Linked DNA regions of Homo sapiens: region 2 is linked to region 1. The links come from fine-mapping of genetic effects on gene expression. A gene starts in region 1. The other region holds a variant in brackets. All regions are shown on one strand. Distances are from middle to middle. Region 1 holds the start of LINC02299 (long intergenic non-protein coding RNA 2299). Region 2 has its middle 91 kb from the start of PAPOLA.

The links.
Region 2: its variant is fine-mapped to the expression of LINC02299 in lung (GTEx, PIP 0.97).

What each region holds. Positions count from the first base shown.
Region 1 is chr14:96,732,481-96,748,222 of GRCh38, reverse strand. LINC02299 (long intergenic non-protein coding RNA 2299) reads right to left here and starts at 7,032. Exons shown (of 4, transcript NR_146552.1): 1 at 7,012-7,032; 2 at 3,954-4,062. RefSeq lists a silencer at 6,481-6,530 and an enhancer at 6,866-7,366.
Region 2 is chr14:96,585,709-96,601,450 of GRCh38, reverse strand. No RefSeq gene overlaps it. Among named protein-coding and RNA genes, the nearest start is that of PAPOLA, 91 kb to the right of the region's middle. RefSeq lists a silencer at 8,641-8,820. The variant A/G (reference allele first, on the strand shown) is at 7,938.

The DNA.
Region 1 (15,742 bases):
CTTCTTCGGCATTGTCTCCCAATACCCAGCTCTGAGCACATGCTGTCTTGCCCAGAAGATTGCAACTATTCTGCAAGAATGTTTCTCTCCATGCACCAACACAGGATAGGTACTCACTGAGCATTTATTGCTGAATAAAGGAATCATTCAAAACTTAAAAATACGAAAAAAAAGGTCTCACATCACTCCTGCCAACTTGCTGGTCCCCAAAGTCAATGTGCACTTGCCTTTCTCTGTGCCTTCCCTGGCCTGGCCCCTGCTGTTAAAATCATACTCAGATGCCAACTCCTCTATGAAATTTCCCTCTTTGCCTCCCGCAGAAATGCGTACCATCTTCACCATTCCCCCCGGCATCCAGCACAGACAGCTGCTTACCCCGGGGCAGCAGGCAACAGTGGCTTTTAATGTCAGGACGCCTGGCTTTGAGGGGCTCCGGTAAGTCTCTTAAGCAAGTCTGAGCCTCGGTTTTCTCATCTATAAAATGGCCAGGCGGGAATGAGGAGAGCTCTCTAAGTTACAAAGAGCTACGTTAATGTGCATTCACCCAGCAGTGCCCCTCCAGCCTGAAGGTGGCTTTACAGCAAGGTACTCATCAGCGTCACCTCTCCATCACCAAAATGTCTAGCAGGGGCCTGGCTCAGAGGACTGAATAAACGCCGGCAGACTTAAATGCAAGGGGTACAATACATGTGCTTTATGGCTGGTATGCTAGGTCTCCAACCCAGATATTCTGGGCAATATTCATAAATATCTAGAATTAACTCCCAACACTTCACATTTCTTTGATTTCATGGTTCTAAGAATAGAAATAACCTTTCAATTTTAAATAGAAATTGCGGAGCTGAAGACAAGTGACGAAAGTCTTCCAAGACATCCAGGCTCAACTGCAGAGTTCAGGGAGGGCACGGAACACCGAGGGGGAGGTCTGTTTGACAAATCTTTGAGCCAAGCCAGAGTTCCAGAGAGCGAGGTCTGAGGCGGGCTCCGCTGGAGGCAGGCACAGCCTGGGCAGAGATGATTAGCAATAAATGGAGAACACCTCAGGGGACCCTCCTACAGACAGTCTGTCACCCAGTGTTTTTACCATTCCATTTCAAAGTTTAATTAGATAATCACTTTCCAATGCCTACATGCAATTAACCCCTTTGGAGCAGCCCTCGTTCACAGTCAACTTTCACAGGCCACAGAAGCCGAAATGCCCACGACGAGCCTCGGCGTCGCAGATTTCAGGAAAACATTTCTCAAGGAGAAAAATAACTAACAAACATTTGTGGGTTTTAAAGAGAGAACTTCTTTCTTAAATGCCAGAAAGAAACCATTTCTCATCCAAGAGCTCAGCGTGAACCATCAGTCCCTCCTTCCTCGTACAAGGCCATGGACAGAACCATCTTCGGGCGCAGCCAGGCTGAATTCTTCTGCTAAGGGAGAGAAGGGGCTTGCAGCCTGCCCTTCAAGGCCACCTGCCCGGCCAGCTGCACGTGCAACCTCCTCTCCCTTCCTTGAGGGTTGCTGTGCTTGTCCCATTTCATTTAACACACTGGGAGAATGCAGATTCCCTATGGTCCTCTTTCGCCCGTGTGATTCACAAACCCAAGACGGCAAAAGACCAAACTGAATTCACAATGTCCCTGGACTTCTTTTCTTTTCTTTTCTTTTCTTTTCTCTTCTCTTCTCTTCTCTTCTCTTCTCTTCTCTTCTCTTTTCTTTTCTTTTCTTTTCTTAGAGATGGGGTCTCACTGTGTTGCCCAGGCTGGTCTCAATCTCCTGGCCTTAAGCAATCCTCCCACCTCCACCTCCTGAGTAGCTGGGACTAGAGGGGCACACCACCATGGTCAGCTTTCCTGGACTTTCAAAAGCGATTTGTTTATTTGCATGGTCTTTTAAAGCACTCCTATATGTCACGTGACCCTTCCAATATCCCCACGAGGTGGACAGGAAAGGGATTGTTATGCCTGTGTAACATGCAAGGACACTGACTCACAGAGGGGCCAGATTCAATGTCACACAGCTGGTAACAGGCAGAGCAAGATTCCAACTTAGGGCCCCAGATACAGGCTCCCAGTTGCACACTCTTTCCACCATGCTGTCTTTATTTATTCCATACCTACTTATTGATTGCCTACTATGGGCTAGGCCCTGGGGATTCAGCACTTCACAGGTCACAGGAGCTACCTATTCTCAAAAGATTATAAAACTAATGGAGGAAGCAGACATAAAACTGCAGCGTGAGAGTCCAGTGAGAACTGGAAGCCCTGGGAGCCACAGGATCCCAGTCCAAGAGCCCAACCTGACACTGGGAAGCCAGGTGAATAAAGCAGAGCCAGGATGGGGGTGAGCAAGGCTGGAGGAGACACTCAGTCTGTGGGGAATGCAAGTCCTGGCCCTGTGACTCATGGATACACTGGAAAATATTTAATGACTGGCTCTGGGGGGAAACAGACGTGATGTGTAGTGTCTGCCCACTCCCCTGGTGTAAACGCTGCCATTTAATGACTGGCTCTGGGGGGAAACAGACCTGATGTGTAGTGTTTGCCCATTCCCATGGTGTAAATGCTTCCATAGCTGCTGATGTCAAGCTACCAATGTTAAGTCACTGCAGGTTGGGAAGAGATGCAAACATGTGCTCCTGCAAGCTGGTGCAAGCTGGTGCCAGCCAGTGGAGGCCGACTCCAGCATGCCACTGAAGTGACATCTAGAGCAAGGCCTGAAGGGCTCATCACAGGGTGGACACAAAAGATGGATTTGAGTTTGAGTGAGACCAGAGGCAAAACTGAGGACAGGTTTTTACAGAGCTGTGCTGTCCAATACTGTACTCACTAACCATATGTGGCTATTTGGTTTAGATTAAAATGTATTACAATTAAAAATTCAGTAGTTTGGTGGCACTAGACACATTTCAGATGCTCAGTGGTTACATGTGGCTAGTGGCAATCACATTGGACAGCACACGTTTTAGAACATTTCCATCCTCATTGAATGTTCTATTAGCTAGCACTGTAGGGAAGGAGGGAGGCAGGATGAATTTCTAGCAAGAGAAGAGAAGCTGTGACATGGAAGATGAAGGGTCAGCTAAAATAAGCTTCCTCAATGTCCCAATTTCACCAAGGATCAGCCTCAAATGAAGGATGGGTTGAATGAATGAAAGTTAAGATGTTGAGCTCCTCTACTGTGCTGAGCCTTTTTTTCCTTTTCTTTTCTGTTCTGTTCTGTTCTCTTCTCTTCTCTTTCTTTCTCTCTCTCTCTCTTCTTTCTTTCTTTCGTTCATTAGCTTGTTCTTTCTTTCTTTCGTTTTTGGTCAGGGTCTCACTCTGTCACCCAGGCTGGAGTGCAGTGGCATAATCTTGGCTCACTGCAGCCTCGACCTCCTGGGCTCAAGCCATCCTCCCACCTCTGCCTCCCAAAGTGTTGGGACTACAGGTGTGAGCCACCACACCTGGCCCTGTAGTGAGACCCTTGCTGGGTGATCTGCTCCCTGCCCTTGAGGAATTTACAGCCCTGGTACACAGTAGGTGCTCAATACATGTGTCAAGGCATTTTGGACCATCTTGGGGACAGTGCTCCATGGAGCACGCTTTGGGATGCACCTGTCCAAACACAGCCCTGTGTGAGCAGGTGAAGCCCAGGGCTGCAACTACTGCTCAGGTGCTCAGGTGCTGGCCCACAGATCATCCGGCTTGGGCTAAGACACCCATCGGGAAGTAGCTTTCTCTCCAGTGAGACTGTACTGTGTATGTTCCTTGTTTCATCAGCACACAGGAGCATGGTGATGACCACAGATACACAGTGCTCGGGTCAGTTGCTGAGGAAACCAAGCCCGTGTTTAACAGCTAAGGCAGCAGCAAGCCTTTGGTGGAGCCCAGCACAGCCCCACCTCATGGAGTGGAAGCCGGATTGGAATCTAGCTACACTTTTCTCCAAAACCCATGCTCCGTCCCTACCCCCCACACACTCACCTCTTGATCACTTTCATATCACAGCCCCTGCTCATCCGAGAACCTCGTTTCCTTCCCAGAAGTCCTCCTTACTTCTCTTCCCACAGAGCCCGTGTCGCTTTCACAGCCACTTTAAAAAGGAAAAACAAAGGTGACTTTTATTCTATTCTAAAAGTAAAATCTCACTCTTTCAAGAAAATTAGAAGGCAAAAGAGAAGTGGAAGGATAAAGGAGGAAAAACTTTGCCCATAGTTCCAACCATACAAAGACAGGCACTGTGCGGGTATTTTCTGTGTAACTTTTACTTTGTGGAGCATCTTTTTCGTGATCATGCTGTGGATTCAGCTTTGAATCCTGCTTTTTGTCTCAGCACGCGATCACCTGCACTCCCAGGTTACTGTACTCTTACCAACATGGTTCTCCACGGCAGCATCAATTTTAAGTGGCGGGTGGACCCTGGTTTACTCAAATCGTCATCCACTTTTGTTGGACATCTAGGTTATTTCCAATTTCTCTTTCAAGTATGGCAGCTTGGTTTACTTCTCCAGCTTTTTCCACGTTTCAGAATCTTTCTTTGGGATAGATTTTCAGCAGTGGAATTACTGGATCAAAAGATATGTGTATCTGGCTGGGCACGGTGGCTCACACCTATAATCCCAGCACTTTGGGAGGCCAAGGCGGGCAGATCACCTGAGGCCAGGAGTTCAAGACCAGTCTGGCCAACATGGCCAAACCCCGTCTCTACTAAAAATATAAAAATTAGCCGGAGGTGGTGGTACATGCCTGTAATCCCAACTACTAGGGAGGCTAAGGCAGGAGAATTGCTTGAACCTAGGAGGCAGATGTTGCAGTGAGTGGAGACCTCACCACTGTACTCCAGCCTGGACAACAGAGAGAGACTCCATCACAAAAAAAAAAAAAAAAAAAATGGTGGGAGTATCTTAAAGTTTCTTAATACAGATTGCCAAATTTCTTTTTACCAATTTATACCCCCAAAGCTCAGGTGTGGTGGCTCACACCTGTAGTCCCAACACTTTGGGAGGCAGAGGTGGGAGGATAGCTTGAGCCCAGGAGGTTGAGGCTGCAGTGAGCCAAGATTATGCCACTGCACATCCTGTCTTCTCTCCTCCCTCACCAGCCTTTGATTTTATTGTAATCTTTCCTCACTCCATAGGTTCATGTACTAACTCATTGTTTTATCTGAATTCCTTTTATTATTTTGGTGATGGAGACTTCTCTCAAATACCAACAACCGTTGAAAAGTTTGGTGGCCACTAAAACTGGACATATCTTTAATAAAATTGTGCCAGGTTCCAAGGCTGCCCGATCGGCAGGGAAGATGCAAGGCTGTCCTGGAAAGTCCAAACTCTGGGAGCTTGTGGAGGATTCTCCGTGACCACGGCCTTCTGGACTCTGGTATCCCATCCCCATCACCATTCCTACACTCACCTAATGCCACCTCTTCAATGAGGACAGTGAATTCCAAATAAACGGCTATTTGTCTGTGTTTATAAAGCAAAGGACAAACAAAAACAAGCCTGGCCTGAGGGGGCTGCAGAAGGCACCTGTCACCCTGCAGACCAGAAGCTCAGGCAGCAAGATCCAGTGGAGACTAATTCCAAGACGCTGGACGGAAAAGAGGTGGCTGGCATTCTAGATGACTATGCTAGAGGCCTGTGGCTCTTCTGTGAAACTCCCTGGGGAACAGGGGGCAGAAAGAATATAAACAGAAATATGAAGTTGGAGGCTGAGAAACAGAAAAGGAGAGAAGAGGCAGGGCCTAGTGGCTCAGGCCTGTAATCCCAGCACTTTGGGAGGCCAAGGCGGGCGGATCAGTTGAGGCCAGGAGTTCCAGACCAGCCTGGCCAACATGGAAAAACCCCGTCTCTACTAAAAATATAAAAATTAGCCGGGCATAGTGGCGGGCACCCGACAGTGAGAGCCGGAATCGCGCCACTGCACTCCAGCCTGGAGGGAGACTCTCTCAAAAAGAGAGAAAGAGAGAGAGAGGGGGAGAGAGAGGGAGGGAGAGGGAGGGAGACAGGTAGGGAGGGGAGAGAGAGAGAGAAGAAAAAGTTACAGGGAAGAAAAAAAGACAAACGGCGAGAATGCTGTAGGATGGGGAAAGGCAGACAGAGCAAAGTGGAAGTCAGAAATTGTGATCCGCTGCTCTAAAATAAATCAAACAGGGAGAAAAGAGAGACTCAGGGGTATGTGGACAGAGAGTAGAATGGGGAGGCACAGGACAAGGGAGTCCCCCAGGCCGGAACAGGCCAGAAAGCCAGAACCTGGTCGAGGGGAGGGGGCGAGCAGAGCGGCGGGGAGCAGACGGGAGAGAGGGTCGCGCCGAGCCGCGAACACCCGAGGAAAGGCAGCCCCGCCGCGCCACTTCCAAGGGTCCGGGCTTGGGCCACTCGCCCCATGCCCAGGGTTCGGGGGCAACACCAGCGGGCGGCCGCAGCCAAGGAAGGGGCTCCCCAAAGTTTGCAATAAAATCACCCACGCCCGCCTCCGTCTCGGAGGGACTTCGTGTAAATGCACGAGCCCAGGCACCCCCTCGGCCCCTCGCCCCCCTCGCCCCCCAGCCTCTGCTGCAGCCCGGGCTGCTTCTCCCGCGGGCGGGTGGTGCTTGGAGGCGGCGGCGGCGTGCGGGCCAGCTCGTGGTAATCCCCGATGCTGACGCTAGAGGGCGCGCAAAGGTTGCTGCGCCGCGCCAGGTCTGCGAGGAGCGGCGGGTAGAAACGCAAAAAGCGTAGGGCCTGCGGGTGTCGGCACCAGCAGTGGGGTGCTAGGGGCTGGACAGTGGGGTGCCGCGGAGCCGGGCAGTGGGGTGCTGGAGGCGCTGGCCCGGATGGCTGATGGGAGGGTGCCATGCAAAGAGGTGTTGCTCACTTTATTTATTTGGAGAGAGGTTGCCCCTGCATTAAATCTTTGCAAGACTGAAACAAGCCGGTGCAAAACTAAATGAGAGACAGGCGGAGGCAGGCAGGGCAGGAGATGCCCCACACCTCGCTCCCTGGGTTATGGAACCCCCAAAACTGCTTTGGGGGAGAAATAGTCTGATCCCACCAGTACTCACCTCTCCACACACACGCACGTCCTTTCAGAATGGGGTTGGGCGGGGGAGGTGGTGAACTTTAAAAGGCTTTTAAAGGAACAACAACAAAAAAAAAAAAGGTTTGCACAAGGCTGAGGTACTTGAAATGATTTTTGTGTTGCAAATTGCTATGCTTTTACTGAGGCGCTGATGAAAATAAATGAAGCTCCTCTCTCTCTTTTTGCTAATAAATGAAATGAAAAAAGCGCCATTATTATGCCACCTGCTTCTAATTCCTAATTGTGGTAACTTAATTCTCAGATTGTTGTTAGCTGCTTAATATCGCAGGCGCACAAGCAAAAATAAAAATATGAGGGCCGTTTGGGTCTTTTTTGGCCAACGAGGTGGAAGGTGCTTGGACTCAGTTTTTTGTTTAGTTTGGTGACAGTTCCCACAGTGAAATGTGTGCACGGTATTGGAAGGGAGAAATCTTTATTCTCTTCAGCATCCCAAGGGGAGCTCAAAAGGAATAAAAAGGCTTCTGAGCTGCTCAAAACCTAAATAAATAGTCCATGAAAAATGATCAGTGACAAGGTCCGTATTTTTTCCATACTGAAATAGAATGGTGCATATTTCCTATAAAAGAAGAAAACATTAATTTTTATAAGCTGGTTCCTAAATGCCTTCTATGAACCTCTGAACCACACAGTTCCCAGCCTGGGCATTGTAGCTGGGTCCCTGGCTGAAAAACCTTTCTTTCGGGTGTGTCACAGATGACAGGTAAACTCCTTCCCAGTCATTATTTCCGGGCCCTCCAGTCTAGGGAGGTGGGGATGGCCATGGGGCGGGGGGCGGTGGGGGGGGGGGGTGCGATGAGACTCTTAAAATTTCTCCCAGGCAAATAGAAATTAGCAGATCTGAATCACAATTCTGTGAAAGTCAAGAGCTATATTTAGCTTCTTCTCTTATTTTCCATTAAAACCAAGTTTTTTTGTTTGTTTTCCCTGGTCTCTCTTATTGTTGGGAAGTTCTGGAGTATCAGACTTGTCAGGAGAGTGTGAGAGAGCCCGAAATAAGTACAAATTTAGGAGAGAAAATGCCATATTTCTCTGGTACAATTATGAAAGGATAGAATATTGCCATACACTGTAACACATTTTTTTTTCTTCTCTAGTTCCAGGCAAACAGCTAAATAAACACATAATAAGCATTTAATCGAGAACAATTTGTCACAATGTTGCTAGTCAACAAGACAGAACTGCCTTCTGTGAAACCGAATAAAATCAACTTAATACTTCATGCCCTGGCCTCCTTGGCCTTTGAGTTTTTCACATGAGATGCGTTTGTCCCTTATGACTGTGAATGAGAGTACCTTGGAAAATGCTGGCTCAATTGCATCCAAGCCAGTTTGGGGCCTGCCGGGGAAAGCAGCCAGACAGACCTTCAATCCCAGTTCAAACTACCCTCTAAGTGTTGCAGTGACACATGGCAATGTCCTGTTGACCATAAAATCCCGTTCTAGCAGACGAGAACACTGTCCAGCTCTAAGCAGAAGGGCAGCCCGCTCGAGCAGACCGCGAGATGCTGCCCAGTCCAAAACGTGAGCAAAGTTCACAGGGGAGAGAACGCAGCGCAGCCGCCCCGAGTCAGCCCTGAAGCAAGAAAAACCAAAAGAAAACACTTGTGAATGAAACTTAAAGCTCTCAATGGAGCTGGAGCAGCAGGTGCTGTTTAAATAACCAAAATAAGGTTGCAAGCAACAGATCCTATGTTTGCTGGGTTCTTTCCTATGCTGCATGACATTAGAAAGGGAGTGTGTAAAAATATAAGGCTACATCTGCAGGCAGAGCTAGGCTGATGGTGAGGAGACGCAGCAAATGAACCCCAAATTCAGGAAAATATGCAAAAGGTTTGCTCTTTAAATTCTACAGGAAAACAGAAAGTGGAAAATATGTGTGTCTGGGTTGTAGTGAGGAGGGATAGATGAAACATAGAATGCTAATGTGTCTCATGATCAACCGAGAGTATCTTATTTACATCTTAAGCTATTTGTTGCTGATTTTCCATGCAACTGTTTTGTACTGGAATTCTCAAAGCTGAACCAGAAGCATTTAAATGACCCTGTACGTTTGCTGTGTGTCTTCTAGAAGGTGTAGACACACACACGCGCGCACACACACACACACACAGCCGGTCCCACATCTATGTGCATAAGCCGCATATACTCCCCCTTATCTCTACAAATCTCTGCCATCTCTATATTCCCAAACACAGGAGAATCTATGTATTTATTTCTCTCTTGAACTCGACTATGCAACACAAGTCAACACTCTTAAATGTCATCTTTTAATACCTCATGTAAAAGGCAAACTTTTCCTAACATGCTTTTCTCCAATCCTATTTAATGAACTCCCCTGAACACTGCATGTACCCAATTTCATCTGTAGAGGTAAGGCATAATATTAAAAAAATTTTTTTTTGGTATTAAAAAATGAAAGGAAAAAAGCAGGGGAAATATTTTGAAAGTCAATTAAAATTTTGTGTACGTTTTCATTTTTTAATGATAAATTAAGTTACTAATTTTGTCCGTGCTCTTTGTAGACACTGCAGGTTTAATTGCTAATTGTTAACTGCGAATGAATACATTTGCATATTAATTAGCTCCCAATTTACATTTTTAATTTGCTTCCTTCAAAAGGTGCAAGATAAAAGGTCGTGTTATTTTAAATAATTTATGCTTTATTGCATGAAATACGCTAATATGAAATGTGCCTACTAATTTTAACCCCTTTTCTAAGAAGGAAAATGAATACCATTAAAAGGGGAAGGCAGAACTGGTGGTGTTTTGAAAAACAACATTATGCTACGTTGTACCTCAGCAGCAGAACTGCTTTTTCCTGCAGTCTCCTTAGGCTGAAAAAATGAATGCATTTTTTTCCTTTACCATCCGTTTAAAAAGTGATAATATATTTGAAGAACAAAACAGCTGCAGTGGGGGGAGCCTATCAGTCCTTTATCCAGGAAAAGATAGACAAAATGAGTCTTGTTTTCTAGTCAATATCGCCAGCAAGTGGAAGTCCTCCCAACACCGCCCCCCCACCCTGCAGTGGAGACGCCTCCAGCAGAAACCGCTTCTCCCCACGCCAGTCTCCTCACCCACCAAAAGAAAGTTTTGCAGCTCACATCTTTCTCTAGGCTTTGGAATCCAAGTTCCTCGCCCTGGCTTCCTGAAAAATCGTGAGGTGGTTTGCACAGGGGAGAGTTCATTCTTTCCCAATAGCTGACCAAAGAGGTTCTCAAATTGTAATTTTCACTCTTCATCCCTTGTCAGTCAGCTTCACTGTAAGAAAATAAAAGCCTATTGTTAAAGTGGTGATATTAATACATCATGGTTTGGACAAGAAAACTAATATTCAGTTCTGAAAGGGGTGTACAGATTGGTATATTTTGACCATTACTGGAAACATCTCCTTTTATTTTCTTCCTCTTTTTCTTTTGTATGATATTGTTTTGAGACATACCTACTAAAATGGTGCTAATATTTCACAGAGCTTTTAAAATAATTTGTCTAAGCATGCATTAAAAATTTTTTAAAACAGGGCTTGGATACTAGAAAATATGATTATGGAAAAATATATGTACAATTTGGAGGAAATTGAAACCTGTCACTTTGTTCTCTGGGTTACTGCTGAGTCTCAGCCTTTTTATTGTGTCTTATTTTTTGCAGATGGAACCCAAGCCAGACTTGTGGTAAGAACCTCCTAGCTGAGGGCCACCAAAGATCACACTCGCCAGGATTAGTTTATGTAGATATGCAGGCAAATAGCACTGGGTAGCCTCGCTGCACAGATCCAGGGCTCTGACCGAAACCCTCTCTTGTTCTGACACCAAAACACCCCCTTCCCGACCATGTGGGACAGGCCTGGGATGGAAACGCATTCGAAGTGTTAAGCAATGGAGTCGAGTCAGTTGTTCACCAGAGGGTCGATCTTTCTAGGCAATTATAGCTGCAGTGACAGGAGCACTCGCAGGTTCATTGTGGAAGACACACTGGCAGTTAGGTTTATCCCTCCAGAGGAGCCAGGTGCATGAACACATCCCTCCAAGTCATTAGGATTTTCAAGTAGAAAGATTTCCTTCTGCTCACATGAACATCAGCAGAACAAAAACTCGCGGCAAGATGCAACCTTGGCTGTTTGTCCGTCTAAGGGTGGGGGACTAAGACGAGAGAAGCTGCAGTTTAACCATGTGTTATTTCAGTCTCACCTGGTCATCAAAAGAGGCATGAGAATCGCCAAATCCACCAAAACCAACGAGCTTGCAGCCATTGTTGCCTAATAGGGAGAGGTTGAACACAGGAATGCGAGGGACAGTTGCCTTTTGTGAAACATGGATGGGTAGATGGGCAAATACATATAGAGATACACAGGTTTCATCTGTAGTGGATATTTTGGCTTTTTATTCAGCTGTGCATTGACACTATCGTAAATTCGCCGGCACAGACACTGTGATTGAAGACAGGCTCTCCCCGCATCATCCCTGCACACGAGTCTTCCTGCGTTTCTGTCTCTGTTGCCGAGGTTTCTCACATTTCATACCTCTACAGCCCTCCCGTAAATCAGGGGTTAATTGTGATTCTTTCAGACCCATGGAAATAGGAAGCTGAGACTTCTGAAGGATCACTTGCAAGTCGGGAAGAGCTCGAAGGGAGGGGGCTACTTTCTGAAATCCAACTTTACTGCTTTTACCGAACCATTTGTTGTGCGTGTGTGTGTGTGTCTAAAAAATACATTTGGTACAAATGTTTCAAAGTCCTGGTGCGCTTTAATTAATAAAGCCACTTAGGACGAGTGCAAATCGTGCACGCGGAGATGTGCACAGCCCAGCATCTTTCTGACATCCAGCCCGGTTTGTTTAGTGTAATAGTCAAAACATTTTTTCTTCTCTCGGGTCATGTTGATCTGTAGAATAATTTGAATTCTCAAGCTGTTATCCATACATCACTCCCAATAGCATCCAAATGAAAAGAAACAATTTTATATTCTATAATTAAGCAACATCAAGAATGCAACAGGCAGGAGGCATTATGGTGAGGGGGTGGGGGAGTGGTTAAAGGACTGAGGCCTGAGCCCCAAGCCCACCAGTGCGACCCCAAGCAGGTGACACAGCGGCCTCACCTAAAAGACTCTCTTCACCTAAGTGTTCTCCATACTCAGCCGCAGAGCTCCCACCCACACTGTCTTCCCTCCTGAAACAAAATCTTTCTTTCTGGAAAATTTCAACATGTTTGACGGATTTATTCCACTGGGGATCCTCCACCCCCCTTTTTAAAGGAAACCACTTCTGGGGTGCACAGAGCAACCCTCTATACCATGTGTATACAGAAGGCTGGGCTGATTCCTTTCTTTTTATTTTATTTTATTTTTCCCCGTAACAGGAGAGGGTTTGAAGAATGCTTCTACCATGGATACCAGAGAGGGGAATTTTAAGTAGGCAGAATGTAATCACCCAAATTGGAACTCAGCCAGGACACTGCCAGGGCAATTACTCCTCCTCTCATGCTAAATACCAGGGGAGCATAAATGACCTGCGGTTTTGCACCCTCCTGCAAGCGGAGGGGCTCCCAGGGGCAGGAGCCCGGGAGCTCCCCTCGGACAGACCAGCAGCTCCTCCCCATCACCCCTGGCTCATCCCTGTCTTCAACTTGCCCTGCTCCAGGTTTCTGTAATTCCAAGGGTTTTTAAGCTGAGGTCAGAAATCACTTTTTAAAATAGTATTAATTAGCTCCCACCCCCGGGGTGTCTTCCCTCTCCCAGGACCTGAGCCAAGGGTTCCTTGTGTCCTATATGATGCAGCCCACGGTTCTCTGTGTCCTGTATGATGCAGCCCACCTTCCAATGGCTCTGGGGACATTGCTTCTCTTATCCCACCTCCTGAGCCCAAAACTGAGGACCAAGGAGGTAGTAACTGCTCAAGGTCACAAAGTCGGGTTTCAGCATTGTCAGACCCCAGGCCGCACATCTGTCTCTTCTTTGATGGAAAAAGAAGAGACATCTCTGCTTATACTTTCTCATAGAGCACATTTCTCTTTGAGGGCAAGGATTTATTTTCTAAACAGGTCTCAGTGTTGTAAGTAGGATTGTAATGAACATCCTTGGTATATTTGTCTTTGCACACTTCTCTATGTCCTTAAAATAATTTCCTAGGAGTGGAGTTGTGCAGTCAAAGAAAATACATATTTTAAAAAACAACATATTATTAAATTGCCCTCTGGAAAGGTCTGCATGCTGGCCAGCAGTGTGAGAGTGTCTCCTGAAAGTGTGGCCCTTTTAAAGCTCATTGTCTACACATCCAGACTCCACGTGGACCTGACCTTGTGAACTCTCACAGTGACTGGGATGACTATCGCTACTGCGTTCATCAGTGGCTTTATGTGAATCTGTTGGTTGTTTCAATGGGAGGGCGAGCTCGCTGAGGTCAGGAATCGTGTTTTATGTATCGCTGTCACCCCAGAACCTAGCACAGAGCCTTGCACATAGAAATGGCTCCATGAATGCTTGTGCCGGTGAATTTGTAGAGCCCAAGGCTGTTCAAATGGAGAACACACCTGTGCTGAGTGAGAGACAATGTCCTTGGTGGAAACTAAGACAGGGGTTGGAGTCAAGGCCACGGAAGTTCCAATTCCTCTCTACCATAGCTGGATCTGTGGCCCTTGAGCAAAATCACTTAGACCAGTAGAGTCCCACTTCTCCCATACATAAAATGGAGCTAACGGTGTCTGCGGTGCAGCGCTGCTGTCAGGAGTAAAGGTCAAGTATGGTAAACACCTGGCTCTAGGATTTTTAGCCTTCAGGTTCCTATTCACAGCAGCCCATGACTCACGGGTGGTGCTGGTTTATAACAAGTTTTCACTAACCTACAGCCAAGTGAGAACAAGGAAGATAATATGTGGAGTTTTTCATAAAGCAAAATCCTTTCCATCGGAAGGGCTGTTTTATTATGAGATGATGTCATTTCTACTTCTTCTTTGCTGTTTAAACATCCTTTTGTTTATGAAATTATGGTGACAGTATGTGAGAAGCTGTTTTTTTTTTCTTTCTACATTTTCAACTTTGACAAAATTCAAAAGTTAGCGACTCTCTCTTAGCCTCTCTCACCCCAAATTTGTTTCATGTTTTTCTGGCTCATAAACATAAAGGGCTTAGAACAAATGGCTGAGGCTACAGCTTCATTCAGATTTCTGATCAAATCTCCCAATTCTAAACCCTTATTGAGGGTAAGAGAAAGAAGAACTGGGAGGCAAAAATGCAAATGTCCCCCATAAAACTACTCACAGTTATTTTTGAGTGATACAAATAATAAAATGAGTATTTTTTAGAACAAAAATGTGAGAATTTTCAAGTGTGCATGTTGTTCCCTTGGCAGCAGTGACTTTGGGGGGCTCAACCCCCATGCCACATTCAGAACCGCTTTCTACTTTGCGCCCCTCCCGGCTTCCTTATCCGCCATCCTTCTTGACTCCAAATGGTTTCTCCAGCTTTTCGTCATCCATCTCAGGAGCTGCTTTAGTCCCCCATGGCTACTGACTGTTTCTAAAAATCAAATCTACCCGTAAAGAATGGAGATTTGCCAAGGTCCGGGAGATTCAAAAGAGGAACGGAAGCTCTGAAATGTGAGCAAAGCTACATTACCTTTGATTACCTTCTGGGCCTGTGCTTTCTAATGCATGGCCTTAATATCTTGGTGGGCGCCATTCCTGTTTGGCTGAGAGACTCGGTCCCCAGCCGTCTTGGCCGGATGCCTCGGGCTGTGATGCCTGGTGGGAAGGCTGGATGAAGAGGCAAGTCTAGAAACAGCCCTTGAAGGAGACAAATTGTTAAGACCTGCTCTGAGAAGCATGTAGGTGACTGGGATGCCCCAACACTAGGTCTCATCCTGTGATCAGGGTTTGAGGAGTAGCCCCAAAGGCTGCAGCTTCAAAGGCCTTCAGAACCAAAAGCCCCAGAACAGCGTGGTTTGAGAAGGTGCTTTGTCTGCTCACAGGGCGAGGGGTAGGTGGGTAAAGATGGCAGGAGGCACTAGTATGGAAGGCAGCCACAGGAGGGGTCTCATGGTGGATTGAACAGTGACTCCCAAAAAGCTGTGTCCACATCCTGTTGCCTGCTCTGAATGTGGACCTTATTTGTAAAAAGGGTCTTTGCAGATGTAATTCACTGAAGGATCTCAAGATCCTGTATTATCCAGGTGGGTCCTAACTCCAACTGTGGGTCCTTACAAGAGACACAGAAAAGAGAACAGATGCCGAGAAGGCCGTGTGAAGACAGAGGCGGAGATTGGAGTGATGCTGCCATGAGCCACGGAACACCAGGAAACTCCAGGAACCGCCAGAAGCTGGAACAGGCAAGGACAGATTCTCTTCTAGATCCTTTGGAGGATGTGCGGCCCTGCCAACACCTTGATTTTGGACTTCCGACCTCCAGAACTGTGACAGAATAATTTTTGCTGGTTTAAGCCACTGGTTTATAGTATTTTGTTCCAGCAGCCCCAGAAGCTGATACAGACCTCTCTGGGCAGAGGTGAGTTTTTGTCACCTTAGGAGATCAGGGCAGTCCAAGGTAGTGGCTGGGAGGAAGAATCCTTGATGGACGTACATTGAGAGTGGAGGGGGGTGCTGGGATTACAGGTGTGACCCGGCATTCTGGGAGTCTGAGGCGGGTGGGTCGCTTGAGACTAGGAGTTTGAGACCAGCCTGGGCAACACAGTGAAACCCTGT
Region 2 (15,742 bases), 150 kb after region 1:
CATCAATCAACGAGTGGATAAAGAAACTGTGATATAGATATATATGATGGAATACTACTCAGCCATAAAAAGGAATGAAGTAACGGCATTCGCGGTGACCTGGGTGAGATTGGAGACTATTCTTCTAAGTGAAGTCACTCAGGAATGGAAAACCAAACATTGTATATTCTCACTGATATGTGGGAGCTAAGCTATAAGGATGCAAAGGCATAAGAATGATACAATGGACTTTGGGGACTTGGGGGGAAGGGTGGAAGGGGGTAAGAGACAAAAGACTGCAAATAGGGTGCAGTGTATACTGCTCGGGTGATGGGTGCACCAAAATCTCACAAATCACCACTAAAGAACTGACTTATGTAACCAAACACCACCTATACCCCAATAACCTATGGAAAAAGAAAAAAAGAGATTTAAGCACTGAGGATTTTCATGACCACACACAAAAGACCCTGAGGTGGCCAACCTCAGACCAGCTTCAATGTCGGGGGAATGGGAACCATAGACCAAACACAACTTACCTGAAGCCCAGCCAGGTGGAAGAGGGTGGAGCCTGAGAAAATCAGACTCCGCCAGCAGGGAAGTGGGGGAGTGAATTTGGAGTGAGCAACAAGAATGTCTGCCACACCTGCTTATGAAATAGCTTTGCAGGTGAATTTTCTCATTTACTTGCAAGGCATTCTTACTTGTTAGCATTTCCTAATGATGCTGAGAAAATAGGAATACCATTGGTAAAAGCTTGATCAGGAAAAATGAACAGTCTTGTCCTTGGTGCTTCACACCCAAGAGCCACTGGTTCCCAACCCCTCAGGCGGAAGCAGACTTTGGTGGCCTCATTGCCTGTGACCCCAGGCCTCCAGTCAAACGCATGGCCTGGCAAAATTCCTTTCTTGGAAAATGCCTGAGATGATCGCATGAATCCTCCTACACAGCCTAGGGATTACAACCAACTGGGAAAGGAGTGGAGGAAGGAGGTCACTGGCCCCAGGAGGGTGAGTCAGCTGTCCTACCAACCCACCCCTCACTCCTGATCTCCTTCTGCTGTGATCCACCTCTCAACAAAGAGTTGGATCTCTCAAGATCCATCTCTTGGCCTCACGTTCCTGACTGTGGACCACACTCTGGCCCCTCTAAGACCAGCACTTGCACAGGCCCTGCTGGAAGTACAGCCTCAGCTCATGGGGCAGTTTCAGCATGGCTTGACTCTCACGCCCTGCTGCCTGGGGAGGGCCACACAGCCCAGACTCAGCCTCAGCCTCAGGAAAGCCAACCCCCATCCCTACTTGGCCACCATTAGCTGGCAGAGCGGGGGGAGGGGTAGGTGGGTCCTGATGCCACTGCCATGAGCCACAGCAACTGTCAGCTAAGACCCCAGTCCCGTAATTGGCACCTAGCAAACAATCTGGGAGGTGCTAGGGTTGGGCCCCCAGCATGCGTTAGCCATCGTGGTTATAGAAGCAGCAGCCTCCTGAGGGCAAATGTGGACTGCAGTTGCAGTGTGCTTCCTAAAGCATTGGTCCCCAGCTCAAGCATGGCCCCAGGGTAAGTGGGGGCTGCGAGTGAGGCACAGATTCAGGAGTGCAGAGCCAGGCTAGGGCCTTGGCTGTCCTGGCTTTGGACCCCAATGAGATAGGCACACCCATTTGTAGTTGCACGTCACGATGCTGCAGTATTCATGTCATGGTTGGCTGGCTCTCTGCAATTTCCCCCTCTTCCAGAAGTAGCACCCTGTGCAGTCCAGGTCCTGAGTATCCCCCACCCATGCACTGGAAAGACACCCAAGTGGATGGGCCAAAGAGTCTGCCCACCAGAGTTTGGGAATTGACACCTGGTGGTACCAAGACACAGGGCAGTGGGCACTGAAGTTGAGTCCTGTAAGGGCTGGGCCCCCAGAAGACGGCCACCGCCTCCTGCTGCCCCAGTCCCCACGGCTACCTATTCTTCCTGGGCCAGTGCCTCCTGTAGTCCACAAAACACCCTCACTTCCTGCCAGGAGACTCTTTTTTTGTTTTTGTCAGATAAGACAGAGTCGGTTTCTGTTGCTTGAGTCCGAATGAACACACGGCCCTCAGCCACGCTCTCATTTTACAGGTGTGACCTGGGGCCCAGCAGGCATGTGACGTGTAGAGGTTGCGCTGGCCGTGCATGCAGGTCTGAGAGAACCCCAGTTTCTAGGCACCCCCTCACTCCTCTTTCTGACAATCTGCTTGGTAAACGTGTGGACTCGGCCCCTTCCTGGGGCCCTCTTGGCTCTGCCTTCAGAGGTGTCCACATGCCCTGTGTTGGTGCTGCTTGGGAAGGCAAAGGCCCCAATCTGCTCAGACCAAGTGGTAAGCTTGGACCAAGCGGATCCAGACCTGTGGGGAGGCAAACACACCCTCACCACCATCCCTCCCCAGGAGCGCATCCAAAGGCCTGGCATCAGGGCTTTCCAAACTACCAGGAAAGGGCGCTCCACAGGTGAACACACTTCCAGCTCCAACAATTTCCCAGGGAAGAAAAAGTTGCCATGCCCCTAGATAAAGGGTGTGCGGAGCAGCAGGGGAAAGTGGAGCAGCAGGGGAAACGGCTTCTGGTGTGCGCACTGCTCCCTTAGCTGCAGGAGTGTCCCTGATCTCAGTAGTAGATAAACTCTTGGCAAAGCTGGGTTTTCCATGGTTTGCTGAACTCCTGAACACAGATGTCCCATTTGTGTTTCGTTAGTACATCAGCCGCTCTGCGGCTTTCGACCTCTGCACCAGGCAATAATTACCTGGCTCGGGCCCATCCCCTCACCAGCTGGCCGGGGACTTGCTCTGCCCGACCAGGGCTGTGTCTGCTGTCAGCCCTTTCCAGGCAACTGGACAGCTCCGTCATAACCAGAATGCCTCAGCTGGGCCTGTGTTAGCATGAGGGGCTGTGGGTGGCGGGTCCTGTAGACTCTAGCAGACACCTCTAGAGAGAGAAGAGGTCTCCAGAGCCCATCTACCCCGGGGAGGCTGGAGAGAGGGAAGGGGAGGAGGTAGAGAAGGAGGTGGGGAGGAGGAGGAAGAAACCTAGAGGGGCAGGAGAAGGGGAGAGGAGGGGAGGAAGGGAGGAGGAGGAGGAAGACGGAGGGAGGAGGAGGGAGGGAGGAGGAGGGAGATGGGGGAATAGGAGGGGGAAGGAACCTAGAGGGGCAGGAGAAAGGGAGAGGAGGGGCAGAGCAGAGGAGGGGGAGAGGAGAGGAGGGGGGAGAGGAGAGGAAGGGGAAGAGGAGAGGAGAAGGAAGAGGGACAATGGGGAAGAGGAGGGGGAAGGAACCTAGAGGGGCAGGAGAAAGGGAGAGGAGGGGGAGAGGAGAGGAGGGGGAAGAGGAGAGGAGGAGGAAGAGGGAGAAGGGGGAAGAGGAGGGGGAAGGAACCTAGAGGGGCAGGAGAAGAGGGGAGGAGGGAGGAGAAGGGGGAAGATGGAGGAGGGGGAAGAGAGGAGGAAGGAGAAGAGGGGAGGAGGACCAGAAAGAGAAGGAGGCAGAGGTGGGTTGGGGCCCAGGCCTGGAGCTGGGAGCTGCATCTCTGAGCTGAACATGCTCGGGTGGGCCTGGCAGGCTCCATGGACCCCTGCTCCATTGCCTTCTGGCTCCAGGGGAGGGGCCAGGGTGCCATCTCAGTCCCACAGCAGAGGACATGTAAGGGAGCCTTCTGATGGGATGTCGGCTGGGTTTCAAGAGCGGCCTTGGCAAAGTACAGGGCTTTCCCCACTCTCGTCCTGAACTGACGCACTTGGGCATGGGTGAGGGGGTCAGGGCATTGCCCTCCCTATGGGTCTCCCTTCCCCAGGCTCTGCTCTTGGGACTTCCAGAAAGCCCCCAGGGAGGTCTTTGTGGAGGAAAGCATTGCGTCTAGGCTCTGAGGCACACAAACAGAAAGGTCCCTAAGCCCCAGCTCACTTGTGTGGAATTTTTTAAGACACAGTCTTAAAATATGTAAATAGTTGTTATTCTGTATAGTTTTTTAAAATGTGTATTTCTTATTGTTGTATTTTTTGTTTGTTTGTTGTTGTTTTTGGAGACAAGGAGACAAGGTCTCACTCTGTCACCCAGGCTGGAGTACAGTGGCATGATCTTGGCTTACTGCTACTTCTGCCTCCCAGGTTCAAGCCATTCTCCTGCCTCAGGCTCCTGAGTAGCTGGGATTACAGGCACCCGCCACCACGCCTGACTAATTTTTGTAATTTAGTAGAGACGGGGTTTCACTGTATTGGCCAGGTTGGTCTCAAACTCCTGACCTCAAGTGAGCTGCCCACCTCAGCCTCCCAAAGTGCTGGGATTACAGGTGTGAGCCACCGTGCCCGGCCTACTGCATGTGAAATTCTAACGTGGGTGGATCAAAGGGGATTTGCCGAGAAGCGAGTGAAACTTAAGCTCCAGGCCCCCTCACTTGCCCAGGTACCTTCCAAGACCCTGAGCTGAATTTAGAATTTATAGCTCTGTAAGAAGGCGCCCCAAATTGTATAGGTTCCAGGACCCCTAAAACCTGGATCTGACTCTGGTATAAATTTTCAGCTCCACCTTTTCATCTACATTGAGATGTGGGATATCTACATTCAAATCAAGAGTCACCATGGTGGGGCTCAGAGAGGCCAAGTCTTAAATCAGAAATATATTGACTTTCGGAAGAAGGACCCCCACAGAGAAGGTAGCGAGGGAGTAAGTGTGGCAAGGGGAACAGAAAGGGTAGCCGGCATTCTTTAAGTGTGTCATGAGCATACATGCTAAGCATTCTGAATCACGATCTTGTTTAATCTTCCCAGCAACCTGAGGAAAAGTTGTTCTCCCATTTTGCAAATGAGAAGAATGGACCTCAAGGAAGTAACTGGTCCGCAGGAGTGGAGTTGGAATTGAAGCTTAGGTTGGTGGGCCCTGGAGGCCACACTCTTCCCACGACACGTCATGCACCCAGATGTGTGAGGGAGCTGGTGGAAGGCACAGTGACTGGAAGCATTTTGGTGAAACTACAGTCCTCAGTATCTATGCTTCCCACACGCACAGATTCAACCAACCGCAAGTCAAAAATGTTTGAAAAAAAATAAAAATACAACAATAATGGCCGGGCGTGGTGGCTCACATCTGTAATTTCAGCAGTTTGGGAGGCTGAGGCAGGAGGATTACTTGAGCCCAGGAGTTCAAGACCAGCCTGGGCAACATGGTGAAACCCTATCTCTACAAAAATACAAAAATTAGTCAGGCATGATGACAAGCGCCTGTATTCCCAGCTACTTGGGAGGTTGAAGTAGAAGGATCGCTTGGGCCCAGGATGTCAAGGCTGCAGTGAGCCGAGATGGTGCCACTGCACTCCAGCCTGGGTGATAGAGTGAGACCTTGTCTCCTTGTCTCCAAAAACAACAAAAAACAAACAAAAAAATACAATAAGAAATACACGTTTTTAAAAACTACACAGAATAACAACTATTTACATAGCATTTACAGTGTATTAGGTATTATAAGCAATCTACAGATGATTTAAAGTATATGGGAGATGTGTGTAGGTTACATTCAAATGCTATTATTTTATTTTATTTTTTAAGAGACAGGGACTTGCTTTGTCACTCAGGCTGGAGTGCAGTGGCAGTCACAGCTCACTGCAGCCTCAAACTCCTGGGCCCAAGTGATCTTTTCACCTCAACCTCATGAGAAGCTGGGACTACAGGTGCACACCGCTGCACTGGGCTAATTTTTTTTTTTTTTTTTTTTTTTAGAGGTGGAGTCTTGCTATGTTGCACAGGCTGATCTTGAACTGGCCTCAAGTGATTCTCGCAAAATGCTGGGATTACAGGTATGAGCCACCGCACCTGACCCACATTTTATATTGTCTGATCATCCACGGAGTTGGTGTCCAAGAGATTCCTGGAACCAATCCCCCACAAATACCATGGGACCACTGTACTGACTACACTGGTCAATGACCCTAAAACATTTCTCATGTGACTAGTACATGGATATTAACTATTTGGTACCCTTTGTTACTGATGTACAGCATATGAAATATCTGTGGTGGTCTCTTTAGTCAGACTGATGTTTTAGTTTAGTTTTGATTCTTAATGAACGTGTATAAATCTATTGACATCAATAAATTGTTTCACTTGTGATCTTACAGGTTCTTCATCCACAAATTCTCTCACAAGAGGCTTTTAAGAACAAAACTATCACCACCAAGGAGAGGAGAGAGAGTTGATACAGCCAAGGATAACAAATTTCATCTTTCTGCACCAACTCCCATAGGTCAGCAGCAACTTCCTGAAGTCCCGCGTGCAAAGGGACCTTTGGGCCCAGCAGCTGTGATCTGTCAGCAATGCCTGCTCCAAGCACGGGAGGGAAAAGAGGCAGTTTTTCCGGCAGGTACTTGTCAGCTTCTGGAAAAGCAAAGATAGACAGAGGCCAGGCCCTCCAGCTACAAAAATGAGTATTCTTTTGGGGGCTGTGACGAGACTCAAATGTCCTCAGCTAAGAAGAAGCTGGACTTCTCCCACCCCGGAGTCCCTGGGCACCTTGTTAGCTAGGGTGGCTCTGGCCATTGATGAGAGAAGGCCAGGAGGATTAAGACCAAGATTTGAACCTTGGACAGCCAGGAAGTTGGCATCACTGTCACCAGAAGTCAGCAGGCCACCTTGTGCTGGATAAGGTGGGCTCCACCACAGTCCCTGCTTGAGGAAGGTCATGGCCACTTCTGTCCCGACCTCAGGGGCTCACTGGATGGTTTAGTTCAAGGGTGGTCTCAAATGGGCCACCTTTGCTCTTCTTGCAAATGTGGCAGATGTTGAAAGCAGCACTTTCCTTTAATTTTCACAAGAAAACACTCACGTAAGACCTTTCTGTGTGGGATTATTACTGAAGTCTGGGGTTACAGGGGATCCCACTGCGCAATGAAGCAGCTTAAGGGTCCTGTGGTGGTCTCCCGAATGCTCACGAATCCACCGTCCTCCCGGAATGGGACTAGAGTGAAGCCCACTTGCCTTGGGTGCAGAATTTAAGAGCAGCCAGAATTCAAGATAAATAATGTTAATGCAAAAAGTAATGGGGAAAAAAATCCACGATGAACAAAAAATCAAAATTTTATTTTATTTATTATCATTTTTTTTTGAGATGGAGTCTCGCTCTGTCACCCAGGCTGGAGTGCAGTGGCGCCATCTCGGCTCACTGCAAGCTCCACCTCCCGGGTTCACACCATTCTCCTGCCTCAGCCTCCGGAGTAGCTGGGACTACAGGCTCCCGCCACCACGTCCGGCTAATTTTTTTGTACTTTTAGTACAGACGGCGTTTCACCGTGTTAGCCAGGATGGTCTCGATCTCCTGACCTCGTGATCCACCCGCCTCGGCCTCCCAAAGTGCTGGGATTACAGGCTTGAGCCACCGCGCGCCGCCAAAAATTTTAAATAAAGACAGAATCAACTATGCCGTTCCATATTGGACCCTGAGGCAAAAGGAGATATCCATGAAACAGATCCTGTCTTTACTTGAAATGTTGATAGTTCGTTCATCATGGATTCCTTTTGTTAATTTTGAGTTTTAAAATATGGCATTAAAATACGATTTCCCTTGATGATTGCGATTTTTGGTGCCCCTTCAATTCTGTGCCCAGGCCAGTGCCTCATTCTCCTCACCCCTGCTCTGCTCTGCCCCTCTTGGCCTCTGCTCCCAGCCTCATAAGAGCATTAAAAATGTCTTCCTCCAGTTTTCCCAGGGCACCTCAACCCTTCCCCGCCCCTACTCCCAAATACAGCACCCCATCTCCCAAGACCTGCCACTTTGAAATTGCTCTTGGCAGAGGATGCCTCAATGCAGACAGTCAGGTGAAGGCCACATGCAGGGACAGGAATGAGTCCACGAGGGGGTTTTCCCCAGTTGGGGGCTTCCTCACATGGAGGGGCTGTCTTTCAGCTACTCGGACCCCACAGGACAGCCCCCAGAGCCAGGAGGAGGCTAC[A/G]AAGGCGGATCCAGGTAAGGTGTCCTAGGAATTGGGAGGATAAAAATAGTGGTCACTAGACATGAAATCAGATCCACACAGACACAGAGTGCACTGTGAAAGGGGGTCCCTTCTCTGGAGTCCAGGCCCTCCTCTGGGTCGTGAATATTCTCCAGCTCTGGCTGGCATCCAGGGAGGTGGGGGTGCCCCCTGGGCAGGATGCTGCTGGGTCCGAGGCTGGCCTGGAGGATGAAGGGGGGAGGATGAAGCCATTCTCGCCCTTACCTCTGGAGCTAGGCGGACTCCCCATGGCTCCCACCGGCCCCTCTGCTCTTTCTGCTCCACCCTCCGTGTCCAGGGGAGCCCGATAGAGCACGCGGGAAAAGCCGGGTGTCTACGCTTCCGCGACTTAGGCTGCAGAGATAAGAGAAGGTCAGGCTCTGGGAGGACGCGAGGCCGTCCAGGAATGGCAGGGAGGCCCGCTGGGGCCTGACTTTGGTCCTAATGGACCAAAGCTTCGACGGAGCAAGGCCGGGTGTCCGTGGTGGCACCTCTCATCAGTGGACGCTGGCGAATGACTATGGAAACAACATTCAACAGCAGTGTTTTCTATGCCAGGTACACAACCGCCTTGGCGTGGGTTGATAACCATGCCTATCTCACCGCGTGGCACTGAGCCGACCGCACACCCAGGGCCCCGGTCTCCAGGGCTCGCTTACTCGCTTACTGCGTGAAGCATCCATCCCCGCAGGAGCCGGAGCAGGAACAGGGCTGGGCCCTGGGGCGCGCGCATGCGCAGGCCGTGCTCCAGGAAGGGCGGGGCACTGAGCCGAGGGCCGGCGCGGGGCGGAGGGCAGGGGGTGGTCGCACTCTCCAGGGCACCTGTGCGGTGACTGAGAACCGACCCGGCAATCCGCGGGCCCGGGCGGGGGGAGTCCTGTCTCTGCCGCTGACCAGGTGCGTGACCTTGGGCAAGTCACTGAACCTGCAGGTGCCTCCGTTTTCTCGTCTGGAAAATGAGGGTCCTAGAGTCGCCCATCTCATAAGTCGTCGTAGCTCCGGGTATAACTTAGGCCGGTGGCAGGCACGGATGCGGACTCTCTGTGCGGCAGCGCTGAGCATTCCGGTGGGCGCCTAGGAAGGGCTATTCTTATTCTGCTTCCTACCTAGTCTCAGCAAGATGAGACCCAAAAGTATTTCTCCACCACCCAGTACTTATGTTGCTTTCCTCCATTAAAATCACGACTTTGTGTAATTTGACAGGATACCTTGCATGTACGCCTTCTCACTTGACTGTCACATGAGCCTTTTGAGATGGATAAATTTTAGGATTCTTCCCATTTTCCAGATAAGGAAACTGAGGCTCAGAGATCTAGTGGCCAGCCTGAGGTCCCACAGCTAGAAAGTAAGGAAGCTGGCCAGGCGCGGTAGCTCACGACTGTAATCCCAGCACTTTGGGAGGCCAAGGCGGGTGGATCACCAGAGGTAGGGAGTTCGAGATCAGCCTGGCCAACATGGTGAAACCCCGTCTCTACTAAATATACAAAATTAGCGGGGTGTGGTAGCGGGCGCCTGTAATCCCTGCTACTCGGGAGGCTGAGGCAGAAGAATTGCTTGAACCCAGGAAGCAGAGATTGCAGTGACCTGGGATCGCGCCACTGCGCTCCAGCCTGAGAGACAGAGTGAGACTCGGTCTCCAAAAAATTAAAATAAATAAAATAAATAAAATAAAATAAAATAAAATAAAATAAAATAAAATAAAAATAAAATAAGGAAGCCAAGACTGAAACCCAAGTCTTCAGATTCCAAAGCTGGGGTGCTGCTGGCTCGTTCTGAAAGCAAGCATGATGGCCATCCTTTCTAGACATATCAGCGGTGTAAGTTCACACTGAAATTGCCCTGCATAATTAAGGATTTTCTATTATTGGGGAGAGTGTGACAATACAGTAATATTACAGTTATACTTTGAAAAAGAACCCTCTCCCTTTAGAGAGACACACTACAATCTTCCCAAATGAAAGGATACGATGTCTGGTGCCCATTTGTTTTTAAATAATGGGGTGCGGGTGCACAGATTAAGCAAAACTGGCCATAAAAATTGTTGGAAATGGGTGATGAGCACATGAGTTCATCACATGAGTCTGTCTACTCTTAGCACATGTTTAAAGTTTCCATAATAACAATAAAAATAAATCAAGTTTTCTCAAAACTTCTTAAGCTGAAGCACACCTGTGTTGCTGGAAGAACTCAATCCCAAGATCTGTTTTCCAGCAACTGAGAACCGACCCCACAGTCTACAAGCCTAGGGGGAGTCTTGTCTCTGCTGCTGACCAGCTGTGTGACCTTTGGCAAGTCACTCAAACTGCAAGTGACTCTGTTTCCTCATCTGAAAATGAGGATTATAGGGGTGCCCACCTCAGAGGGAATGAGACCCCTGGGACTGGATGCTGGGTCCTTGAAAGCCACTGAGCTAGGAGTCCCACACCCAGGGCCTGCAGGGCCAGGCAGGCAGTGTCACTGAGAGGAGTGACAGGTAGGGACGGTGACAAGTGGAAATGTTCCCTCCAGCCTAATGGTGTGAAGGGGCCACATATTCTTCTTCAAGAAAGGTGGTGAGCTAGCTCTTGACCTGACATTTCCTGGTTTCTAAAGGTTGGCAACCAATTCAAATGTAGCTGTGAACCAATTGCCTATATGTGACCAATTTGCCTCCTGGAGCCCGGGCTAGCCCTTCTCCTTTCCCCCACACCCTTTGGAGAAGAAAGAACCAAAGCCCAGAGTGAGGAAAAACTCCCAAAGTCTCACAGCGAGTCAGATCCAGCCCTAGCACAAGACACGCGTCTCCCCTCCCCTGGCCCACTCCTGGTTTCATATTTCAGTAGTTGGAGGACCTTTCCCAAAGAAGAGACCATGCAGAGACAGAACAAAGAGCAAGCACCAGATGACAATGTCTAGGAGAATGTCAGTTCTGCTTCTGAACCCAAATGAGTGAATATGCCCCAACGAAGGCAAGTGGGGGCGAGGTTAAGCGGGGGAGGGGGAGGCCACTACTGTAGACCTTAAGATCAAACATTTGGGCCAAATGAGTTTTACTTATTACTTGGCTAGGTGGGTTTACTGAGCAAGTTATTTAACCAGGCATGACCTCTGTTTTCCCATCTGTAAAATGGGAGCATACACACAGCTTGCCCTTTTCTGTTTTATGCAACAGTATAAAAGCTCAAAGCTTCTTACAAATTGTGGCGATCTCCTCAGAGCCTGCGGCCTTGGGCAAGCAAGGGGCCACTCCAGTGTATCACTGTTATCACTACTAAGCACTATTATCAAAACAAAAATGGAAGAAGAACCAGTGCCGAGAACTCATGGATCTAAATGGCTGAGCTCTGGAATCTCTCTCTTTTCAGAAAGCAGCGTCTTAGGTGAAGGAAAGAGCATCGAAGATTGGAAAGCAACAAAGACTACGCCCTCATAGTTCTCATCACAAGGCAGAGACAAGCTCATGGGGAGAAGATGCGTATACACAACATTCCTCTTGGAGCTTTTCTGAGTTAGATAATGACATTTCTAACCCAGTGCCAACAGTGTTTGAAACATCACCCAGAACCAGCGACATGGCAAGAATATGGAGCTACAGAAATAAAATATGCTGAGCATAGAGAGGGGAGGGCAGGGAAAGCAGAGAGAAAATCTCAGATCCAGAGGAGGAAAAGCCACCTGTGACCCTGAAGAATGCTGGACTCTGCAACCGGCTCAAGCTGCTGAAGACAGATCCAGCTCTTGCTCGCCCAGACAGTAGTCTCCCCAACACCCCAGAAACAGAGCTGCAAGCTGGCCTGTGGGAACCAACAGCCCTCTTGCAGCTGCCTTCTGAGCTGGGTTTTCACTTCTGCAAGATAGGAATAATGAGCTCCACCTTATGAGATTCTTGTAAGGGTTAAGAAGATGACTGTGGACAACAGGAATTTTTAGAGACTCAGTTCTTTATTTGCCCAAGATCACGCAGTGTCCAGGCTAGGACCAGATCCAGGCCTATGGGTTCTGGTTCCCAGCCTTGTGTTTGTTCGCTAGGCCACCCTGCTCTAAGTGGCCTAACACCCTGTCACTTTATTAATCTACCAGGACAGAAGTCACAGTCTGGTGGTGTGAGAGACCATTTTGGTCTCCACGGCGTTTCAATTTTTATTTTGTTGCTGGCATTTTTTGTTAAGTGGGAAATTACACATAAAAGCACAGATTTGCAGCTTCCCTTGAGAAATTATAACCTCTGCAAATGCTGGGCCTGGTTCCCACATGGAGACAGCTGGCTGGCCTGAGAAGTAGCTGCCTCCCGGGGGCAGGTCCCGGGCCCTCAGCATCTTCCTCCAGGCCTGCTTCATCCACTTCCTTCCCTCTCAACCCGCGTATGCACTTGGATGTGGGACACACGGCTTTTTAGAGGGAAAGCCCTTGGCTTGCCTAGAAGCAGCCAGGGGACCTCTCAACACCAGAGCCAGTGAAAATTGCAAAGCATCCCTCGAAATGCGTCCACGGCGATTAGCAGGCTGGAGATGTGATTTATGAAGAAGAATGAACACAGGAAATGTGCCGACCTTGGCTGAACAGTGACGTGGGCAGAGATGCGCCCCATTCACGGCCTCAGGAAGGAGCCGAGTTGTTAGAGAAAAGCCCAGGGGGGCAACTCAGGGAAACAGAACTGAGCCGGGGAAATTTTCAGCTGAATTATCAGGAAACTACCCCTGGAATTGTGAACGCCTGGGCAAAATGGAGGTGTCGATGCAGAGAGGGAGGGGAAGATACCGTTCCTGTTTCTGCCTGACTTCTCAAAAGAGGTCACCAGATCCATTCATTGGGCATTCAGGAAACAGCTCTGCACAGAAGCTCTGTGGACTGCAGGAAGTGGCTCCAGGAGGAGTGGCCAGCTGTTCAGCCTTCGGCACCCAAAGAAAGCGGCAAAGTCAGGGTCATTGGGGCCTGACCTGCCTTGACATCAGAAATAGAAGGACAGCACGGGGGGTGGATCCAACCTGGCATAACGGGCACAATGGCTGGAGTATGTGGACAGTGTTGGTGGTTATAGGCATGACAAAGGGATTCTGGTTTTGGAAGAGTAGCCTATTGAATAGGTATTTCAGTCAGGTCTCTTTTGAGTTGCAACAAAAACCCAACTCAAACTGGTCCATGTGCAAAGGAAAATTGTTGGCTTCCATAAATGATCATTTCAGAGGTAAATTGCTTCAGGCATGGCTGGATCCAGTGGTTCAACTGACATCCTCAGGACCTGGGCTCTCTGTCTTCTAACTCTGCTTTCCTCTGTGTTGGTTCTCAGGCAGACGCTTCCCTGTGGTGGTAAGATGGCGCCCACCAGCTCATCTTAAGATCCCATGAAGCCCAGGAGACATCCTGAGGGCAACTCTTACTGGACTAGTTTTGGATCACATGCCCACCCCGCAGCAACCAATCAGATTGGTGTAGGCATGTGGTACTGTGATTGGGCATGCAACATTCTGGGCCACCTATGGCACTAGGCGCAAGGTGGGGGCTCTATCCAAATGAGCTGCCTATAGACGAGGGGTTCTCCATGGGAAAATTAACATGCCATTTTCAGAAGTAGCAGGGGTAGAACTGAGAGGGCAGGCAACATGGCAGGGGAGCAGACGACAGAGGTTGCTATCAGGACCCAGCCAAGCAGGGCTGTCACCAAAGCTCTGGGGACACTCAGTGGGATCTGGAAGACCACCACTGAGGCTGGCTCAAGTCTCACACTGGATCACAGCCCCAGGTCCCCCCACCAGCTGATAGGGCTGGGACAATTAACATTCTGGTCCCTAATGTGGGCTGCCTCGGGGTCTGGGTGAGCCAGCAGCTTAGAGGGGTCAATGCCCACTGCCAAGAAGAGCCTAGAGAAGGCGGGATGCTGGGGCTTCCGGATTCCAAGCTCAGAAGGGCAGGAGGGCACATCCCAGGTACCCGAAGTATAGTGTCAGGAGGGCACGGATTTCACTCTCCTTGCCAGGGAGTGCCTGCCTTATGCGTGGGCATGGCGTGTGTCCCCATTCTAGTCCACGACAGGGGCGGGGAGTTGGAGGAAGGAAAGGCCTGGGCTTCTGGACAATATTTTGCTTGCTCATTAAAAATTAAAATTATAAAAAATCCCATTTGAAGAAAGAGTCCAATTTCCACCTTTGGACTGCCTTGAGTCTGGGTGGCACGCGGGACTGAGGCGGGCAGCCAGGCTGCAGCCATGCGGAGGAGCTGAAGGTGGCCAGGGAGCCAAGGAGCCAGGGCCTCTCGTGGTGGTGGCATCACCTCAGGAAAGCCCATCAGGTAATGCAGTCCCCGTACTCGCTTTTGCAGCGGGTTAAGCAGCGTTTCTGTTGTCTGGAGCTGAAAGCAGCCTCCTTGACACCAGGACTCAGAGCTGGGATCAGCGTGAACTAGGAGTGACAGGGGAGCCAGACCGGCTGCTCCAGCTTCCCCCTGGCCCTGAGCCCTGTGGCTTGTCTTACTGAAGACACGTTGGTCAGTTTCTGCTGCAAAAAACTGCTCTTTCCTTCACTTCTAGGCCATGAAGGGAAAACTGTTTCCTAAATAACTGTCTTACCCTGGTTTAAATAAGTCTCCCACAAAATGGCCAGAGACTGACGTTTCCTTTTTACACAGTCAAAAAAGAAAGCTCCCCACCCAACTGTCCATCAATAGAGGGTAATTAAGTTCATTCAACTACAGCCATTTGATAGCTGTGTGCACAGCCGCTAAATTGATGCTGACAGATGATGCTTAAAGACACGGGAGATGCTTTGTATATTACTATTAAATGAAAGAAAAAAATACAGGTTACAAAACTCTATGTATGCAGTATGATCATATACATATATTTTTTTTAATATGCACACACATAAAATAAGACTGGAAGGAAACACCACAGTGTTTGGGTGGTGGAATTTGGGGTAATATTTATTGTCGACTTTATACTTCTGCACATTTTTCAAGTTTTCTACAATAAGCATATATTATGATTGTAACTTAAGAACTAGAGTGAAGACTCTGAGGACATACTTGGCAGCCCTGGGGGAAACACTTCGAGGGAGAGGAAAGGAAAATCTTTCACGTTTCCATCAAGGTCCAGGGCTCCAAGCACCCACAGACGCCACATTGAGCCAGAGTGAGCGTCCGGGTGTTTCTGGCAAGTGCAGAAGGAAAAGTCAGAAGCGCAAGATTCTGGGGTCCAGGAACCTTTCAGGGTGTGCAACAGCCTCCTCCTCTCCCTCTGCCTCCATCAAGTCTACCTCCCACCAGATCTCTGCGGTTCCCTCTCTCAGACTGAGCAGCAGCAAAGCCCCCGTAAAATATCTGGTGTCAAAGCTGACCTCGCACAATCCGATTCCTTGGGAGTCCCTCATACTCAGGGAGTTTGGCACGTGGGAGGTTAATTCTCTTATCAAAACTGTACAAAATCCTAATTTTGCAGAGTGGCAATTTGGGGGAAAAAAAACCCAGCAATGGGAAAATGTTGGTTATGCAGCACTAGACATTCAGTTCTCAGGGGATCAATTATAAAAACACTCATTCAGCTATTTCTATTCAAATGAACACCTGAAGAGGAGGCCTCAATGGTTTTAAAAGTGTGTGGATATTACTGGATAAATGTTAGTCCAATAAAAGAGATCATCATCCGCTATTTGTGTACATTTAAGTTGACACTAAAAAGATCTTTGTGGAGTATCGCTGCGGCTGCTGCTTTTTCTGCATGCATCTTTTTATCTCCTATTCCCTTAACACTTTAGCAACTGAAGAAAACAGACCAAATGTGGCTGGTCATGGTTTTC